Regions from separate parts of the Homo sapiens genome. Here all the other regions are linked to region 1. Evidence: fine-mapped expression QTL. A gene starts in region 1. Each other region holds a variant in brackets. All regions are shown on one strand. Distances are from middle to middle.

Evidence for each region. PIP is the estimated chance that this variant, and not a neighbour inherited with it, causes the effect.
Region 2: its variant is fine-mapped to the expression of FCRLB in tibial artery (GTEx, PIP 0.94).
Region 3: its variant is fine-mapped to the expression of FCRLB in whole blood (TOPMed, PIP above 0.99).
Region 4: its variant is fine-mapped to the expression of FCRLB in lung (TOPMed, PIP 0.94).

The regions. Positions count from the first base shown.
Region 1 is chr1:161,718,779-161,723,931 of GRCh38, forward strand. It overlaps FCRLB (Fc receptor like B), which reads left to right and starts at 2,766. Exons shown (of 8, transcript NM_001002901.4): 1 at 2,766-2,883; 2 at 2,977-3,072; 3 at 3,875-3,925; 4 at 4,211-4,231; 5 at 4,589-4,843. The coding sequence starts at 3,895. RefSeq lists a silencer at 119-168 and enhancers at 3,548-3,647, 3,728-3,827.
Region 2 is chr1:161,640,186-161,645,338 of GRCh38, forward strand. No RefSeq gene overlaps it. Among named protein-coding and RNA genes, the nearest start is that of FCGR3B, 12 kb to the left of the region's middle. The variant C/T (reference allele first, on the strand shown) is at 2,365.
Region 3 is chr1:161,676,850-161,681,993 of GRCh38, forward strand. FCGR2B (Fc gamma receptor IIb) reads left to right here. Exons shown (of 8, transcript NM_001394477.1): 7 at 479-516; 8 at 627-1,805. The coding sequence ends at 704. Among named protein-coding and RNA genes, the nearest start is that of FCGR2B, 16 kb to the left of the region's middle. The variant C/T (reference allele first, on the strand shown) is at 1,903.
Region 4 is chr1:161,538,582-161,543,730 of GRCh38, forward strand. It overlaps FCGR3A (Fc gamma receptor IIIa), which reads right to left. Exons shown (of 5, transcript NM_000569.8): 5 at 3,178-4,618. The coding sequence ends at 4,431. TRN-GTT1-1 (tRNA-Asn (anticodon GTT) 1-1) reads left to right here and starts at 1,660; the gene lies at 1,660-1,733. RefSeq lists a silencer at 1,636-1,865. The variant C/G (reference allele first, on the strand shown) is at 2,145.

The DNA of each region.
Region 1 (5,153 bases):
GTGATACATCAGCAAAAAAGAAAAAATTCCTGCCTCAATGGAGCTTACATTCTAATGGGGGAACCTACCACAAACAAACAAATACAATTCCGGGTGGTGACAAGTACATTGAAGAGAAATAAAGCAAAATATGGAGCCAGCAAATGACAGTGAGGAGATACTATTTTAGATAGCACGGTTAGCGACCATCTCTCTGAGGAAGTAATATTTGAGTGAAGTGAGGAAGTGAAACTTACAAAAATCTGGGAGGAGAATAAGAATCTTTCAGGCAGAAAGAACAGCAAGTGAGGCCCTGGAGCAAGACTAAGCATGGAATGTTCCAGCAACTGTTCTAAACACAATGTGGCTAGATCAGAGTGAGTGAGGGGGAGAGTTGTAGGAAATGAGGCCAAGGGTCAGAGAAAGGCCCGATTTGTAGGGCCCTGTAGACCATGGGAAGGTGTTTGGAACTTATTCTGAGGGTACCTATGGGGAATTTTGAGAGAAAGTAACACAATATGGTTAACATTTTAAAAGTATCTCTCTAGCGACTCAGTGAATAAATTACTGTACAAAAAGATCAATGTAGCAGGTAGAGTCATCAGGACTTGCTGATGAATTAGATTTGAGTTTTGGAATGAGTGTGCATGTAACTCATGAACATAATTCTGCAGTCTTGCTCTCAGGTGTGTATCCCATAAAGGCGCTTCAGGGCTCTGTAGGGAAGCATCATGTCCTTACCAGTACTAACTTACATGAAACTTCCTATGTGCCAACCCCTGTTCTAAGCCCTTTACATATGTTAATTCATCCAGCCCTCACAATATGTACCAAGAAGTCCATTGTGGAATTGTCTGTGGTAGCTGAGGGTGGGCAGCAACTAGGATGTTAGGGGAATGGACAAGTGCAGTGTAGCAGAAGCATAGAATATTAGGGCAGTCATGGCTGGGCGCAGTGGCTCATGCCTGTAATCCCAGCACTTTGGGAGGCTGAGGTGGGTGGATCACCTGAGGTCAGGAGTCCAAGACCAGCCTGGCCAACATGGTGAAACCCCATCTCTGCTAAAAACACAAAATTAGCCAGGCGTGGTGATGCACGCCTGTAATCCCAGCTACTCAGGAGGCTGAGGCAGGAGAACTGCTTGAACCCAGGAGGTGGAGGTTGCAGTGAGCTGATATCATGCCATTGCATGCCAGACTGGGTAATAAGAGCAAAACTGCGTCTCAAAAAAAAAGAATATTAGGGCAGTCAAAAGCAATAAACATGATGCATGTAGAGCAATCTGAACAAATTTGAAACATCTGGGATTAATTTTTAAAAGTAGAAGTGAATATAATATCTAGAACACAATGCCACTTATGTAAATTAACAACACTAAATATTTCTCAAAGCTAAAAACTGCATGTTATACCTAATGTAAATGACGAGTTAATGGGTGCAGCACACCAACATGGCACATGTATACATATGTAACAAACCTGCACGTTGTGCACATGTACCCTAGAACTTAAAGCACAAAAAAAAATAGCATGTATATGGGAACACACAGTAAACATTTTACAGTGGGTGCTTATGTGGAGGGGAGGAGGACAATAATGTGGGTGAAAGTCAACAAGGTAAGACAATAAGAGGGGGAACTTGCAAAGACCAATAATGACAGCCGGCCATGAGCAGCATCTTGAATCCCTGACAATCAGAGAGATAAGAGAACAGATTTTGGAGACAGACTTCTATTCAAATCCCAGTTTCATCATCTCAGTTTCCTCATATGCAAAATTGGGATATTAATAATTCTTCCTCAAAGGGCCTTACAAGAATTAAGTGCAGTAATATCTGTGAAGCACTTAGCATAGTGCCTGCCACATGCCGAGACACTAAAGTGAGCTGTCATCAGCAACAACAGCATTAGTTCATTACTGTAATTATCACTGAGAACACTTTATCACCAGAATGCTTATCAAATGGTGACATATATTGTCCAGATGTTATGTTGTGATAGGCCTCAAATAATTGCTCAAGTTACAAATGATAATTTCTAAATTTTTCTGCATTGTAAAGGAGTGAAGAATTAGAAATTCTGGGGAAAAGTCCTAGATGGAGTAAAAAGACTCACTTTGGGAAAAACTTAGAGGAGAGCCTAGAATAAATAAATATTTCGTGGGAAATTTTTCAAGTCAAATTCTGAGCACTGTATAATATGAACAGTATGGATGGTTCCAGAGGTTTCTAGGGACGACTATACAGTTCACAAAGTTTTGGTGTACTAAGGTTTCTTCTGAATCGAGTAAAGGGGCTGAGATCTGTGCTCTGGGGGATGAGAAGCCAAAATAGAGCCAGCTTGTGTTGCCTAAGAGGACAGCTGACAACTGCATTGCATTCTTACCATTGAGGTGGTGGCTTGGTGCAGAAGTCAGACCTCTGTGGCAGGCTGTGGATCATGTGGGAAGCCACACACTGGCCCTGAGACGAGGAATTATTAGGATGGAGGGGAAGCACAAGAGTGCTGGTCAGCCCAGGCACTCCTAAAGCAGGCAGGTGATCATCCCTGTTCCCAGTAATTAGTTCTTCTCTGCCTCCCCTACTCTTGGGCACATTGTCAAATATGTCCCTACTTTGTTTGAAATCTACAGGACTCTATCTCTTTTATCAAAACCTGCACTCAAAACATGATCTGAAGTGACCAGCATAATTTAAATGACCAGTCACATTTTCCTAAGAGGCATTTGCATTTTTAAAAGGGGCTAGTCCATTAAGCAAAATATGAGGGGACTCTCAGAGTGGAACTTCAGGCATCAGCAAGAGGGGAAGATACTATCTTCCTGGGAGTTGACAGTACCTGATAATTGATCTCCTTCCCATCAGATTTCCAAGGGATCAAGGTGCCCCGGTTCTAAACAACCACAGGTAAGGACAGGATAGAGTCCAAGGAGACACACTATCAGGCTGGAAAATTCATTAAGTATTTACATGAAAATTCAGGTTCTCCTCATTGCTCAGGTACGGTCACATGGCTCAGAAAGCACAAGAAGTAGAGCCCCGAGGTCAGATCTGAGAGGCTTCTGAGGGGCCGATGCAGTGACTTCTCTGCTGCAGGTCAGGAGTTCTGGAACTGGGGCGTGGCTGGGGAGGGGTTGCAGGGAAGGGTGGGAGGAAGGAAGAAAAGAACAAGTGATTGGAAGTGCCACAGGATGAGCTCATTGGGATGGGTAGGAAAGAAGAGTTTTCTAACTTCTTAAGAATTTAAGAATTTATGAGAACTCAAGATTTCAGGAAGGGAGGAAGAAGAAACACATTGCATTTCTATCCTTGACTGGGGAACTAGATGATAGGGATGTGAAGGGTGGTTGGTGAGTCATGCCTTTTCGTCTACTCATTGTGGCAGGATGTGAGCTCTGGGGGCAGGCAACCGAACACTGACCTCTCTAGGTCTCATGCCAATGTCTGTCATCAGGAGTGAGCAGGAAAAAGGTCCTTAAGGACATGAGGCCGTGTCTTCCTCAGCTGAGCCTTGCAGGGCTGGCTGGAAGGTGGAGAAGGGATGGGATGGGAGTGGGATGTCAATGGGAGCCTGAAGATGGCGGGGTCATCTGCTGGAGCCTGGGGTTCTATGGGGCTCTCTTGTGCTGTGGAGGGCACAAGTTCTGCAGGCCTTCCTTTCAGTAGTCAGGGCTGGCCTGAGCTGTGAGGTGGCTGTAGATGCGGTAGATGAGACAGTGCCTGGCACTTGGGATACCTGATATTCAGCCTGTCTCCCACTGGTTCTGGTCTGCTATCTTCAGGAACTAGGAGTGGGTGGGAGAAGCAGCAATGTCTCCTAGTACTCAGTGGCATCCACTGGCCACATTCTTTCTCTCTGTTCCCCATCTCATGCCAGTGCATCTCCATCCTTCTGCAGCTGCTGCAGTCAGATCCATCATGTGGCCACTGACAGCCCTTCTGCTCCTGGGTGAGTCCACAGTGAGGCAGCAGAAGAGCTTTGGGTGGTGGAGAATAGGGTGGACCAAGGTATGGGGAGAGGAGGGTGGGTATCCAATCCTCAGTTTCCAAGTGGTTCATTATCTTTTTTTGGAGGGGTGAAGAAGAAGGGGCTTTCTCAGAGCTTGGGAAACCAGGGGCAGAAGAAGAAAAACAGGTTTTGGGACCATTCAGCCTTTCTTGTCGTCAAGAGTCTCTCTCCTCTCATCGCCAATATTCTCCTTCTCCTTCCTCTTCCTTCTTTCCTGTTCTGCAGTTCCAAGCAGTGGGCAAGCTGGTGAGTCTTATAAATTTCTCATCCCAATTTTCTACAGCTTCCACTCCAACCCCCTAAGTGACCTTTTCAAGTAGACTCCTCACTTCTTGGCTGCGCTGGGATAGTGTCTCTTCCCACTCTCGTCAACCCCTGGGACTAAATTTGCTTGAAGGCATTTAGAAATGGGTGCTGGCTGATGGACTGGTAGTCTGTAACCCAATGAATGTGATCTCCTCTCCTGCAGGGATGGGTTAGTACATGGGCTGGGGCCTGCGAGCTGGGGTTTCCTAAGATTTCCCAAACTCAGGTCGTTTCTTTGGGCACCTCACCTTGATTCTCTTTGCATGCTGCCCCCTCTCACCCCACTCCCCACCCCAGCTACTCTGGAGAAGCCCATATTGTCTCTACATCCACCTTGGACCACCATCTTCAAAGGGGAGCGGGTAACTTTGAAGTGTGATGGATACCACCCACTGCTCCTGGAGCTCCAGCCCATCAGCACTCTCTGGTATTTGGGCCACCTACTTCTGCCCTCTCACAAGAAGAGCATTGAGGTGCAGACACCAGGGGTGTATCGATGCCAGACACGGGGAGCACCCGTCAGTGACCCCATCCACCTCTCTGTATCCAATGGTGAGTGGACTGAGCACGAGGGGAGGGGGAGCACGTGTCTCCTCTGGCAATACTAGTCCTCTGGTGGGAGGGAACACTGGGCCAATCCCAAGGTGCAGGAAACAAGGGCCACACTGGGGCCTATCTTAAGTCTCTGGAGCAGGTAGGGACCTGCACGGCACTATGCGAGAGATGCAGTAAGGCATGCCTAGCCCCCAAGGTCCCCTTACCCTCCTGCCATAGTGTGAGGCACAGTGTGAACATTTCTGTTTGTTTCTGAGACCAGCTCAGAAGAGCAAAGGCTCCAAGGACCTGGAGTGCTGGACAGAGA
Region 2 (5,153 bases), 79 kb before region 1:
GTACTAACTAGAAAGAAGCAAGTCAGACAGACATTATCCATTCATCCCCTCCCAGGTCCAAGAGTTTGCTTACGATTATAAACAGCAAGAAGACTGTATTTCGTGATGCTCTCTTAGCTCAGGGCTACAGAGCAATGCTGTTGTATGTAGGAAAGAATGATTTCTTGAACTTGAATCCACAGTAGGTTCTGAGTTTTTTCCAACTCAACAATTGCTATGCTCAGTTAACTCAACAAATAGAATATGATGTACTAGCCTGATATCCATCCCTCTCCCTCCCTTCTAATATAACCTTGATTCTATTCAGGAATCACCCTCATATGCAGAGGTGGATCTTGACTGATCTAAGCCACTCAGGGTGTAGCATTCCCCTGGCTTTTATTGGTTAAGTGGGAGAAGACGGAACTTTGTCCTAAATAGGGCCAATCTGGTAGAGGGGAGTGCCATGTTTGGGAGAGATGATCTCTCTCTCCCACTGTACATGAACAAGGGCTCATTTTGTCCTAGGTTCTGCTGGCAAAACCTAAGATTTTGAAGGCAGCCAGTCTGAGGTCAATGCCAAAAAATCAAGGAGGACAGAGTGGAGGGATAGAATATGGTCTTGGTGACATCACTGAGCTTCTAACGCAACCAACCCAGATTTCTTACAATTTCAAGTAAATTTCCCTGCTGTTTAAGCCAATTTAAGTCAGGGCTTGTTACCTTCATCCAAAGGCATCCTAGTGAATACCTTGGTATTTACTGAGTACCTACTAAAAGGATAAGAAACTCTTTTTCTGGAAGGAGCTAATAATGAACAGGGGAGGAAACTTGACATTTAATGAAGAAGAAAGAAATGCTGACATGGAGACCAGGAGCTCTAGACCTAGCTATGTCACCCAGGGTGACCACCAATTAAATTGTCTAGATCTCAGTCTCTACAATCATGAAATGAGAAAGTGGAGTGTGGACTGTATGTTTGCTAAGATCTCCTCTGGCTAAATTACTGTGTTTTAATGTCAACTAGAGGAAATATGACGCCCCCACTTTTTTTTTTTGGTAAGCATCAGTGGTCCACAAAGAATTTAACAATTGGTACCAACAGAGAGGCAAAAAATACCTTTTTTTTTTTTTTTTAGACAAAGCCTCACTCTGTCGCCAAGGCTGGAGTGCAGTGGCATGATCTCGGCTCACTGCAATCTCTGCCTCCCGGGTACAAGCGATTCTCCTGTCTCAGCCTCCCAAGTAGCTGGGATTACAGGCATATGCCCCCATGCCCAGCTAATTTTTGTATTTTTAGTAGACACGGGTTTTCACCATGTTGGCCAGGCTGGTCTCGAACTCCTGACCTCAGGTGATCCACCCATCTCGGCCTCCCAAAGTGCTGGGATTACAGGTGTGAGCCACTGGGCCTGGCCAAGAAGGAATATAATTGCCTTTTAAGAAAATATTCTGCTTGCTTTCTTTTTTAGAGATGAGGTCTCACTGTGTCAGCCAGGCTGGGTTAAAAAACTCCTGGACTCAAGCAGTCCTTCTGCCTCAGCCTCCTGAGTAGCCAGCACTACTGCCTGGCTTCTACTTGCTTATTTTAATATTAATAACAAAATATAGTTAGCTCTGAGCTTTAAATACAATAGATATCAAAATTATTTAATAAAAAATATTCATGGTCCCAGCATGGTGGCTCATACCTGTAATCCCAGCACATTGGGAGGCTGAGGCAGGAGCATTGCTTGAGGCCAGGAGTTCAACACCAGTCTGGGCAACCTGGCAAAACCCCATCTCTTAAAAAAATTCAAAATAAGCCAGGCCTGGGGCTACATGCCTGTGGTCCCAGCTACTTGGGAGGCTGAGGCGGGAGGATCACTTGAGCCTGGGAAGTGGAGGTTGCAGTGAACTGTGATCGTGCAACTGCACTCCAGCCTGGGCAACAGAGCGATACCCCGTCTCAAAACAAAACAAAACAAAATATTCACCATTATGTGTCTAGTAAAGTGAAGAAAAGAAATAGGAAAGGAAACTGTCAATATAAAAGAAAAGGGAGGAGAACAGGCAGAGTTAGAGACATAAAGACACAAAATGGGATGGGACTTAGAGGAAAACCAGTGAGAGAAAACTCAGAAAGACACAGTTACTGGGACAGTAAAAAACAAAACAAAACAAAACCCCACAAAAAACTGAGAGAGACACCCAGGTTTACAAATATGGTGTCTTAAAAATAGATGGAAAATGCATGAAGAGCAAGGCATCTACTGAGAGATCTGGAAACAGACACACCTCGAGATACATCATACAAAGGCAGTCATGGGACAAGGAGAGAACACTTTCACAAAACCAGGAAGAGATAGACAGACAACAAGGGAAAAAAAGCACATGGGATTGAAG[C/T]AGATTTTGTGGGATGACCTTAAGCTGCACCTGTTGGCGTTGGCTGTGGTTATTAAAATAATATGACCTGCTGACATACAAGAACTTTCCAAAATTTTATGCTATAGCCAAGAGTGAGTTTTAAATGCCCTGCCTTGTGCTATCTCACATCAGAACATGCTTAGATGCCTCCCAGACTTGCAAGTTTTTAAAGTTTCAAAAAGAGAGTGATGGCGATGTGTTATGGGAAGGATACTGGTCAAGGAGGAAGGAAATCTCAGTTTTGGTTTCAGTCTAACAGGGGTCAGTTGTCAAGCCACTTCTCTTCCCTAAACTTGTTTCCTCATAGCAAAGTGAGGTAATTGGGCTAGATTATATCTAACTCTTTCCATCTTAAATATTCTCTAATTCTGAATGTTGCCTTCCAGTGGTAGTTTCTAGATATTGCAGAATGTAGTAGCCTTTGTCTTCTAAAAATCCTAATGAAGGCAGCTTTTGGGAGCCAAAAGGATTTTCTAGCAGAGCTAGCAAATTATACTTCTAAGAGTTAAAAGTTAATTATAAAAACTAAATTCATGCTTCTGCTCATGTGCAAAATCTTCAGAATCTACCAGAACAATACAAGGTAACACCAAAAAGAAAACTTAGTTTTTGAAAAAGTTTTTGAAAAAGAAGTGGAAATACTGTTTTGTGTTGTTCTGTTTTTAATCCGTGCCATCCCACTGGAGAAGAGAGAAAGGTTGGCAACATCATTGGGAGTATGAGCAGAGCTCAGAACCATCCCTAGAGACTCAGTCCTTGTCCCTTTCACCAATATTTTGTTATTGTGGCTTTAAGCACTTTTTGGTTTGAAAATACACGCGTGATCTATATATGTTCTTGTTGCAAATAAGTGAAACAATTCGGACGTAAATAAAATAAAAGTAACAGTGAGATTTAATGACTCCCTCCCCCAATTTCACTCCCTTCCTCAGAGGTAACCCCTTAGAAGCTTGTAGTATATCTTTCCAGAACTTTCCCCATACACTTATATTCATATAAGCACACATCCACCTTTATGTATTTATATTTTGCTCATTTCTGTAGTTATTGTTAGCATATTACATAATGCATATTCTTCTGCAACTTCCTTTTTTATAATGATTCCACATATACATAAACACCATGTTGTTTCACCATGTTGGCCAGCTGGTCTCGAACAACTGCAAACTCCACTCAACATCTTTCACATTTCACATTAAATGGGAGGAGAAATGCTTAAAAAATGTATTTGAGGGTGTGTGGAAAGGAAGAAATGGTATTACTTTGACTTTCTTTTTTTTTTAAAAGATTTGGGTCATTTTGGCCACCAAAACAGGAACTTTATCCTGTATGGGCAGTTGCCTACTGCACAGCCATTTCTTCCCTTCTTCTTTGCTAACGGAACTTGATTTCGTTTAGCAATGTTGTGGTCATGAGCTGTAGAGAAGCCTAGACCTTTTCCAGCCTCAGTGTGTGAACTTTCGGTTAGTCTAAACCAGTGGTTCTCAAATTTGAGCTACATCAGAGCCATTTGGAGGGCTTGTTAAAAACACAACTTGGTGAGCTCTACTCTACCCTCCGAGTTTCTGATTCTGGTGGGGCTTGAGAATGTGCATTTCTAATAAGTTTCCAGGTAATGCTGATCTTGGTACAAGGACCACACTTTGAGAACTGCTGCTCTAAGCCAATTATGGTGTTCTATTGTCTTGCCATGCTTAGGACTAAGCATATGATACAGTTCTGGACAATTAATCCTCAGGGATAATCTGCTAGAGGGATTCTGGGACTCAGGAAGTAACGAGTTCTTTCTCAGTCTTTGGACATGGTGATGCTTAAAGATGTGATGCTGGGAGCTACTACGGCAGCCAACTTGCTTCCAGAGAAGACTGGCTGACATGCTGAGAGTAGCAAAGCAAAGAGAGGGAAGAATCTGGGTTACTGATGACATTATTGTAGATTAAACAGCTCTGGAGCTGCCCTAACTTCAAGAAACTTAATATGTGAGATAGTAAAACATTTATTATTATTTAAGCCATTTGAGCAGAATTTTCTGTACTTGCTTCAGAAAGCCACCTAACTGATTCATTCATACCCTTCTCTCTCAGTGCTCAGAGAGACTCCAGCTGATGTAGCAGCAGAGCAATTTACTTTAAGCATGATTTTGGATATTTTAGGTTGTTTCTAATTTTCATTATCATTCAGTAGCTCTGCAAAGAGTAACAATGCTTTTGTATATTTTGGGATATTTCCAAAGGTCATTTTCCCAGAAGCAAAATTACAATGTCATAAGTATATGAATTTCCAAGGTTTTGATAGTTTTTCCAAATCTCTTTCCAAAACAATTGTTTTAATTTCTACCCTATTCAGAAATATATGCAAGTTCATTTAATCACGTCCTTTTTTCTTAATTGTGGGCAATTTCATAGCTGAGAAATGGGGTCTCATAATTTTTATTTGCATTTATTTGATTACTAGTGTGGAGTCAACATTTACCATGTGTCTGTCAACCAGTTGCATTTCCTCTTTCATGTTGCTATTAGATGGAAAGCACTTAGCACCATGTCTGGCCCTCTTGGATATTTATTTTTTGTTTAACTAAATGTTTTTGGGTTTCTCTATTGATATCCCTGCCTTTGCCTATTTATCAAAACTCTATGTTCTTCTCATTAATTTCTTATGTAATAAAAATACCCCTTTGCAGGGAGACATGAATTTTTACACATTTTTTTTTCCAGTTTGCAGTTAGTAGTTTGTTTTTGGTTGGTTTTAGTTTTGTATCATTCCGAAAT
Region 3 (5,144 bases), 42 kb before region 1:
TCTTTTTAATGCCATGGAGTACCATATTTTTCAAAGTTCCAACAAAGATGCACTACATTTAGACAATGTGGAAATGGCCCTCAGCCTTCTCTCCCTGAAGTCTGTGGCCAGCAAAAATCTGGACTTTACTTCACTCTGATGCTGAACACCCCCCTCCCCCACCTCTTCCCCAATATCTCAGATCCCAAGCCTCCCTGGTTTGCTTCTAGGAAAGCTCAGCAATTCCCTGAAAAGAATGCAGCTCAAGTGACTGCTCCACTTTTTCACCTTGGCCTTTGCGGAAGGCTGTGGCTGGGCTACCCTATGCATCGATCAATGAGGTCATATTTACCCAGTGCTTGGCCTAGAGGCCCAAGACAGGGTCAGCAGTGCTTGCTTTGGCTCTAGTTTGGGCGTTGGTTTTGCAGCCTCAGCATCAGCACAGGCAGGCCCTCTTCTCCAGCAGTGCTCTGGCTGATATTTCTTCTTTTTCCCACAGCCAATCCCACTAATCCTGATGAGGCTGACAAAGTTGGGGTGAGTGATCCCAGCCATCTCCCCCTCCCTTCTCCCCTGTTGCCTTTTCTGTTGCCTTCTTTCCTAGGCCCTCTCTGTGGATCCTTACTGCTGGTTTCTGCCTTCTCTAGGCTGAGAACACAATCACCTATTCACTTCTCATGCACCCGGATGCTCTGGAAGAGCCTGATGACCAGAACCGTATTTAGTCTCCATTGTCTTGCATTGGGATTTGAGAAGAAAATCAGAGAGGGAAGATCTGGTATTTCCTGGCCTAAATTCCCCTTGGGGAGGACAGGGAGATGCTGCAGTTCCAAAAGAGAAGGTTTCTTCCAGAGTCATCTACCTGAGTCCTGAAGCTCCCTGTCCTGAAAGCCACAGACAATATGGTCCCAAATAACCGACTGCACCTTCTGTGCTTCAGCTCTTCTTGACATCAAGGCTCTTCCGTTCCACATCCACACAGCCAATCCAATTAATCAAACCACTGTTATTAACAGATAATAGCAACTTGGGAAATGCTTATGTTACAGGTTACGTGAGAACAATCATGTAAATCTATATGATTTCAGAAATGTTAAAATAGACTAACCTCTACCAGCACATTAAAAGTGATTGTTTCTGGGTGATAAAATTATTGATGATTTTTATTTTCTTTATTTTTCTATAAAGATCATATATTACTTTTATAATAAAACATTATAAAAACAACATTCTGTTTACCTTTTCAAGGCTGTATTGGTTGGAGTGTAGACTGAACTGCCTGGGGTCTGTTTCTCTTCAGTGATGAGACTCTTAGGAAGGCAGGAATGGATAGGATAGGGGGAGGAGAGGAGAGATGGGGATTTAGAATGTAGAGTGAGTGCCCCTTTTCTTAAAACTGAATACAGTCACGCACCACATAATGATGTTTAGTTCAACAACAGACTGCATATATGATGGTGATCCCATAAAATTATAATACCATATTTCTATTGTACCTTTTCTATTCCTATGTTTAGATATATGAGTACTTACCATTGTGTTACAATTGCCTAAAGTATTCAGTACAGTAGCATGCTGTACAGGTTTGTAGCCTAGGGGCAATAGGCTATACGCTACAGCCTAGGTGTGTAGTAGGCCACACCATTTAGGTTTGTATAAGTACCTGCTATGATGTTCACACAACAAAATTGCCTGCATTTCTCAAAATGTATCCCCATATTTCAACAATGCATGACTGTACTCTTCTGCCAATGACCTTGTATTCTTGTTTCCATGTCTTCTTCTCTTTCCTCCTATGGCAAATAAAACACTGTTTTGCAACACAAGTTCACGGGAAGTCAAACTTCAGATGAGCCCTGAGTGGAGATTGCTGACATGTCCTGCTCTGCTATTCTCCCAATGTAGTTACCAGAAGGATGTGAC[C/T]TTCTCAGAGAAGTCATCTCAGGCAGATTAGAAACATGACTGGCAGTCTCCTTGAGGGTTTGGTGAGTGCCCTTGGAGAGGCTTCATTTTCCTGGGACTCTACGCAGTAACATCGTGCAACATTTGTTGCACTTTTTATGGTAGGATAAAAAGTACTCACTTTTTATGGTCCCACAATCAGATTTCATACACACTTATTGTTTTAGTAATAAGGGATAATAATTAAAATTACTGCGTTATTAAGGACTTACTTTGTGCCATATAGTTTGTGCCAAACTATATGCTTTAGAATTTAGAGAATTTACGATTAGCCTTTTATATTTCCTCTTTTGTGAGTTTCCTGTGTATTTATTCTTTGCCCATTTTTGTAGATACAATGTATGTCCCTTTATTTATAAATTGCATAGTAGTAACTTATTTCCTTTTATTTATATGTAAATTATTTCACTACACTAATAATGTATTCTTTTTATAAAATTAAGATACAGATAGGGAAAACAAAAAAATTAGATCGCCCATAAATCCATAAACCAGAAATAATTAATGCTAACATTTAAGGATATCAATCCATATTCCTGTCTGTGGCAGTGTGTATTTGTGTTTTAAAAATTGGATCTAATCCCAGCTACTCGAGAGGCTGAGACAGGAGAATCGCTTGAACCTGGGAAGCAGAGGTTGCAGCGAGCTGAGATCGCACCATTGCACTTCAGCCTGGGCAACAAGAGTGAAACTCTGTCTCAAAAAAAAAAAAAAATTGGATCATATCATATATTTTACATGTTAATAAATACACTCAGGCAAAAATGTATGCTCATTGTAAGCATGTAAGCCCAAATAATACAGAAAGATAAGGAGTAAAAAGTAGAAGTTCCATTTTGTCATCAGTTCCCTCTATCCTCTTCCCTTTTCTTTCTTTCTTTTTTTTTTTTTTTTAAGAGATAGGGTTGTAGTCCAGGCTGGAGTGCAGTGGCAGGATCACAGCTCATTGCAGCCTCAAACTCCTGGGCTCAAGTGGTCTTCCCACCTCAGCCTTCCTAGTAGCTGGGACTACCACACCTGGCTAATTTTTAAGAATTTTTTGGCCGGGCATGGTGGCTCACGCCTGTAATCCCAGCACTTTGGGAGGCCGAGGCGGGTGGATCATGATGTCAGGAGATCGAGACCATCCTGGCTAACACAGTGGAACCCCGTCTCTACTAAAAAAAATACAAAAAAAAAAAAATTAGCTGGGCTTGGTGGCGGGTGCCTGTATCCCAGCTACTCGGGAGGCTGAGGCAGGAGAAGGCGTGAACCCGGGAGGCAGAGCTTGTAGTGAGCCAAGATTGCACCACTGCACTCCAGCCTGGGCGACAGAGACTCCGTCTCAAAAAAAAAAAAAAAAAAAAGAACTTTTTGGCTGGGCGCGGTGGCTCATGCCTGTAATCCCAGCACTTTGGGAGGCAAAGGTGGGTGGATCACCTGAGGTCAGGAGTTCAAGACCAGCCTGGCTAAAACGGTGAAGCTCCATCTCTGCTGAAAATACAAAAATTAGCTGGGTGTGGTGGCTCATGACTGTTTAGTCCCAGCTACTTGGGAAGCTGAGGCACGAGAATTGCTTGAACCTGGGAGGCGAAGGTTGCAGTGAGCCGAGATCATGCCATTGCACTCCAGCCTGGGGAACAGAGAGAGACTCGGTCTCAAAAAAAAAAAAAATAGTTTGTAGAGACGGGGTTTTGCTATGTTGTCTAGGCTGATCTCAAACTGTGAGCCTCAGGCGATCCTCCCCACTTAGCCTCCCAAAGTGGTGGGATTACAGGTGTGAGCCACGGTGCCTGGCCCTGACATGCTACCTAAAGTCTGAAACTTGACTCCTGATCCCCAGGGTCAGTTTCTTTACTGATAGTTTTTCAATAAGCCATTTAGATAGTTGGCATGATTACGTAGCCAGAGGGGGCATAAAAATCCCTCTAGGAACTTCTGCTTTGAGCTCTCCCATAGCCAAGATTCCTTGTATGGATCCCGGTGGTTTAATCCAGACAAAAAGCGTAAATAAGTTACGGTAACTATAAGGATGCTAGGGAGCTTGCACATGGAATCTCTTGGACTCCCAGTAATTGCCTAGACTTTCTTTCTCTTGCTATACTTTTAAATAAGCACTTTGTTTGAGCATGCTCGGTAGAGTTTGATGAGTTCTTTCAAATATCCTCTTCAGGAAGGACATCCCTGACTGCACTTCCCCTACTGCTATTCCTCTGCTCTTATTTCCTTCATGGTATCTATCACTGTATGTAATCATGCATTTTTTTGCTTAAATATTTACTTACAAGTTCTAAAATGTAAGCTCACTCTGGGCAGGATGTTTGTATTATTCACTGGTGTATTCCAGAGACTAGAACAATGCAATCACTATTTATTGAATGAGTTAACGAATGAAATAATATTATATTTATCTAAAACTCTTAAATGCTTTAAATAGATCTTTACTATATTTGGAACTTATTTTTGGACTTGGTGTAAGGTGAGAACCTAATATAATTTTTCCATATGAAAGTCAGTTGTTCCAATATCATTTGTTGAACAGTTTAATAATTTGAAATCCTAATTTATCACCTAAATTCCCACTCATAGGTCTATTTTTAGCCTCTCTTCTATTACATTGTTCTATTTGTCTATTTCTGCATCAATACCACATTTTTAGTTATTGCAACTTTATAGTGTACTTTGATATATAGAAGGTCAAGTTTTCTCTCATTCTTTTGTTTCAAGGTTTTCTTGGCTACTAATGTGCTGCTTCTCTTCCAGATGTACTTAAGAATTCCATAACACTATTATGATATTGGTAGAATTGCATTGCATTTATAGATTATTTGGGTAAGGTTTGACATCTGTGTCATATTGAGGCTTCCTAAGTTACAACTCTTCATTCATTCAGACTTACAGAATTTTCCTATAATATCATATGAGCTTGGCACATTTTTTTGTGACAGATCTTTGACAGACTTTTCTTTCTGTCATTTTTGGTCTGGTTATGATTTTCTCTCTCTCGGGAGTCAATTTTGAAAACTTTTGCTTTCCTAGGAATCATCCATTTTATTGGTATGCAGTGGTACATCGCACTTTTCCCCTATTTTTTGGTAATAAGTTGTGTGTTTGTGTTTATGTCCCTCCTCTCATTCCTAGGTTTTGGGTTTTCTTTCTTTTATCAGTTAGGATGACTTCAGTTGGAAATAACAGGAAATCGTGATTCAAATTGGCTTAAACAT
Region 4 (5,149 bases), 180 kb before region 1:
AGGAGGCTGAGACAGGAGAATTGCTTGAATGTGGGAGGTGGAGGTTGCAGTGAGCCAAGATTGCGCCACTGCACTCCAGCCTGGGCGACAGAGCAAGACTCCATCTCAAAAAAAAAAATTAATAAAAAAAATAAATGACTCTAGTTTAAAGATCATTTGGCAAATTTATTTATTTATTTACTTATTTATTATACATATGATACTGTGTACATATAAACATATATGCATATATAATTTCTGCATATACATATCTATGTTTGCATGTCTTCTCATTTCACTGAACATCATTGAAAACTTCCACCTGCTCCTAAACTGGAGCCCACTGATGACAGAGGATGGCAGGGCAGAAAGAAAGGAGATTCTGTGTGGAGGCTATGGAGAGACCCTGGTTTTTGGGCAATATAGAAAATGGCTTTCGTCCAAGTGTTCTTATTGTTCAATTCCCACCTATGAGTGAGAACATGCGGTGTCTGATTTTCTGTCCTTGTGATAGTTTGTTCAGACTGATGGTTTCCAGCTTCATCTATGTCCCTACAAAGGACATGAACTCATCCTTTTTTATGGCTGCATAGTATTCCATAGTGTATATGTGCCACATTTTCTTAATCCAGTCTATCATTGATGGACATTTGGGTTGGTTCCAAGTCTTTGCTATTGTGAATAGTTCCACAATAAACATACGTGTGCATGGTAGGGAACATCACACACCGGGACCTGTCGTGGGTGGGGGAAGGAGGGAGGGATAACATTAGGAGAAACACCTAATGTAGATGACGAGTTAATGGGTGCAGCACACCAACATGGCACATGTATATGTAACGAACCTGCACCTTGTGCACATGTAGCCTAGAACTTAAAGTATATATATATATGAATAAAGTATATATACATATGAATTAAAGAAAAAAAAAAAGCCTTTTTAGACCCAGCACTGACGAGGTTCCCTAGGTCGATGGTGGTGGAATTAGGGGTCTCTGTCCTCAGATATTTGGATCTGGATATGTCAGCATGAAAGTCCTTAAGTTGCACGCATTTTTTAAAAAATATTTTTTATTTCCAAGCTGAATACCATTAATTGGAATGTTACAGGCTTTTTAAGCTCCGTGTTCTGTCTGCATGTCTAATATGCCGGTAGAAACCTTTCAAAACAGCGTGGGTTGAAGACTAATTTTGTAACACAAAACTCACTTACTTAGACATCACATTTTGCTGGACGTGATTGGACCTGAAAGAAAATATTTTTAATGCTCACGATAATAAGCTTATTATGAGTCAGCACTAAACGTGTGCACATGCATACATAAGTTGTCTACATCAGCAAAAAAAGCTTATCGTCGTACTTCTCTGACCAAAATCAACGGAACCCCCGAACCCACAGAGAGCATCCATTTTGGATTCCCCGAAGACCCTTCGTTCCTGCATTCTCTTCTGCTCTCCTTTTCTCAACCTCTTCTGCTGGAAGCTGAGTCCTGCTCCAGATCTAGGCAAGTGCTAGCGCAGAAAAAAGACCTGCCTCGCTCAGGGCTATGAGCCGCGCCCTGAAGCACGGAAAGCTAATTGTGTCACTGGTTTCAAATCAACCTCAATTTTTTTGGAGACGTGAGTGCTGAGCATTTTTTCTTCAGTGAAGTGACTTGGCAGCCAAAATCGCCAACGCCCGTCTCTGTGGCGCAATCGGTTAGCGCGTTCGGCTGTTAACCGAAAGGTTGGTGGTTCGATCCCACCCAGGGACGGAAGTCGCATTTTGTGAACCCTGGGTTTTTGAAACTTTGACTGAAAAAACTGCGTGCGATGCTATCCGCTGGGAGCGCTGGGGCCTTGGCGCTCAAAACCAGCCGCGGTGCTAACCGCAGGGAGCTCTGGTAGCAGACCTCCGCGTTGTGTGGTTCCCAATGTCCTCTTCTGCCTTAGTGCTGTACGGGTAATTTTGAGGTATTTGGTTTTTCCGACTAGGGTTGTAGTGATAACTCTTAGCTGCTTAACCACGGCAATTACGTTATGGAAACTGACACTTTAAGAAAATTTACTGACCAAAGGAAGTAAGTACTAATAATACCAAAACGAATTGTTTGTCTTTCCACCAAACCTGTACCTGCCTTGCCTTTCTATTTCCTAACTCAGAAAACGGGCACTATGTGTGGAAC[C/G]TGGTCCTTAGTCACGCCGTGTACTGCTGGCTGCCAATTCTTGGAGAGTCGGCCTCCTAAATACCTTGTTGATTAAGCACCTTCCTCTCCAGCCTCACCGCCAGTTACTTCCTCATTGCTCCCTTTGGGTTACTGCATCCTGCCTTGCTGCCCTATTTGGCTTCTGGTCTTCAACTCTCCTGTCCCGTCCATCCATCAAGTAGTTGCGAGAGAATCCTTCTAAAATACTATACGGTACAAACCTGGTCTGCTTAAACTCTCTCAATGTATTGCAGGGTCTGATACGATCTCCTTAGTTTGGAAGGTAATGCCCTTCATGATCTGGCCCTGAAACTCTTTCCTCTCCCTCACCGACACAGAACCAAACTGCTTTCTTGAACTCACACTCTGGTTTTTGAATCTTTGCCTATGAACCTTGGGCTTTTCTTCTCTTCTTTGCCTGGCGAACTCCTACTCATCCTTCATGACCACACCCCCCAAATCAAGCCTCTTTTCTGCAGCCCTTTCTTCATTCTCTTCCTATTTAACTGTTTTTCTCACTAGAAATAAAGCTTCTCCAGGGAATGACCCTGTGTTGTTCATCTGGTATCTTCAGCACCTGAACTCAAGCTTGCACATTGTAGGTAGTAAATAAATGTGAGTTGAATGTCCAAGGTTTCCAAATGCACCTGTGTCGTGTCGGAATCTTATGTAATATTTATGTATGCAATCTAGCTTGAATCGTCTTGGTATATAGCTCATAATTCATACAATCAGGCTGACCCTCTACCTCTGCCCAGGCCTCTACCTCCTGTGTAGCTGTGCCTTCTCCTATCTGCCCCAATGCTCTAAAACGATCTCTAATGCTTATTCACCCTCCTATCCCATACTTCCCATAAGAATCCTCCTTAGCCCAATTGTCTCAGCAAGATTTGGAAAGCAAGCTGGCTAATTTATATGAGTTGTGGTGAGATGGTTGCTGGGAGGAGGGGGTGTTTCTTACCAATCCAAACCAATCTCTGTTACAATGTTGGACAAAGGGAAGAAGAAAGAATTTTATCATTCATATTTTATTACCATGGTTTTCCCATCTTCTATCTAAGAGTAGCATGCAAGATCTTGTAAAATGCTTTATTGGAACCAAGAAATGTTGCGCTTAAAGCTTACAAAACAGAGACAGCTAAAGCTTTCTTTCATAAGCAACAATTGTCTTCTCCATCCCCACCTCATTGGAACTGACATGATGAAGGATTTGAAAGTTTCATAACTTAACTCAGCGAAGCTCAGTAGTACATTTAGTATTGGTTATACAACATTTGTTTAATAAATGCAATGAACAAAGCTACACAGGAATTAGATATTGAAGCAGAAAAGGTGGTTTTACAGTCCCTGCATTAACCTCTAATTCTTACTACCCTGGCCAAGAAAGCATTTTCACCTCCTGCGCTTTCCTTCCTGTGTGCTTGTGGTTGGTTCTTTCTTCTCAGGCTTTCTCATTCTGATGCTGAGATAGTTCTGTTCACTTAGCAACTTGGGACAGTGACACAGGGTTTGTTCTGTACTTTCTTTTCCACCCCACCCCCCACCGCAATCCTCAGTCCCCTTCCTAGGACCATTTTCTACTCCTAGCATTAAGAGGACTCATCGTTATATACTTGGAGATGGTCCAGTTCTGATAGAGTCCCCTGGAAGACTCAATTCTACGTCACCCTCATGATTTCCTGTTAATTCCACTACGGCTAATGTTCTAGGAAGACACCCTTATCTCTGGGCTCAGATGGGAACACCTCCCTTAGACTATCCTGGACTACCTGCTATTTCTCAGCCATGCTTTCATTGGTCCCACTGAATTCCCTAGATCCCCAGCAGTTCCCACACTCTGTATGGTCCTGCCTCAACCATTAATTCTACTTATCCATTTATTTAGGAATAATTGTTTTTTTTTCCCCTCTAAACTGGGTAATTTATAACACGAGCAATTTTTGTATGTTTAAAGGATTACCATCCCTAGCCTGTATTGTTGCTTTGCTGTGAGGGAACGGTTGGGACAGAAAAAGTGTTTGTGTAGCTCTGAAACTTCAATTTCTAGGAATGCAGCTACTCACTGGGGCTTCCCTGCTTGAAGATCATGGGCTTTTCCCTTCCACTGGAGACCAAGGAAAAGTCGAGAGTTGGATAAGGGATCTGGCTCTGAGTTCTATGTTTCCTGCTGCTTGTAGAGAGGCCTGAGGATGATGGGGTTGCAAATCCAGAGAAATGTTCAGAGATGCTGCTGCTACTGCTCTTATTACCCCCATGGGATGGGGGTCATTTGTCTTGAGGGTCCTTTCTCCATTTAAATTTATGGTCCTTCCAGTCTCTTGTTGAGCTTCGAATGTTTGTCTTCACAGAGAAATATAGTCCTGTGTCCACTGCAAAAAGGAGTACCATCACCAAGCAGAAAGAGACTTGGTACCCAGGTGGAAAGAATGATGAGATGGTTGACACTGCCAAACCTATTAGGAGAAGTGGAGAGATGAAAAAAAATGACAGTCACTAAGGCAGATATTTGGAACAAACAGTGAGGTCACCAGTAGAAAGTCTTTGACAACAGCCAACAGGCAAGTGGTAGGAATGGTGGGGAAGTCTGGGGGAAAGTATTGCTTCCTCCCATTGGTTCCTGATCTTAGTGCTATCTGAGCAGAGGACAGCTCACCAAACACTGAGCAAAGGCTCCTGCTTGTTTGACAGAGATGTGACAGGGAGCGTTAACAAGTTAGGTTGTAAGCTGGGTTTTGTGTGACAGTTAAGAAATTGTCAGACAATGCTATGGTCTAGAAACTGGGACAAATTTGTTGATTTTGCATTTCAATTTTTTAAACTCTTGATTTTGATATATTTCCAAACTTAAAAAAAAAATGACCAGAATAGTTTAATCTCGTATATCCTTTACCCAGATCCACTCATTGTTTACATGTTACCCCATTTGCTTTATTTGCTCTCTTTCCCTAACCACTTGGGAGTATTTACTTTCAGTTTAAAGTGTC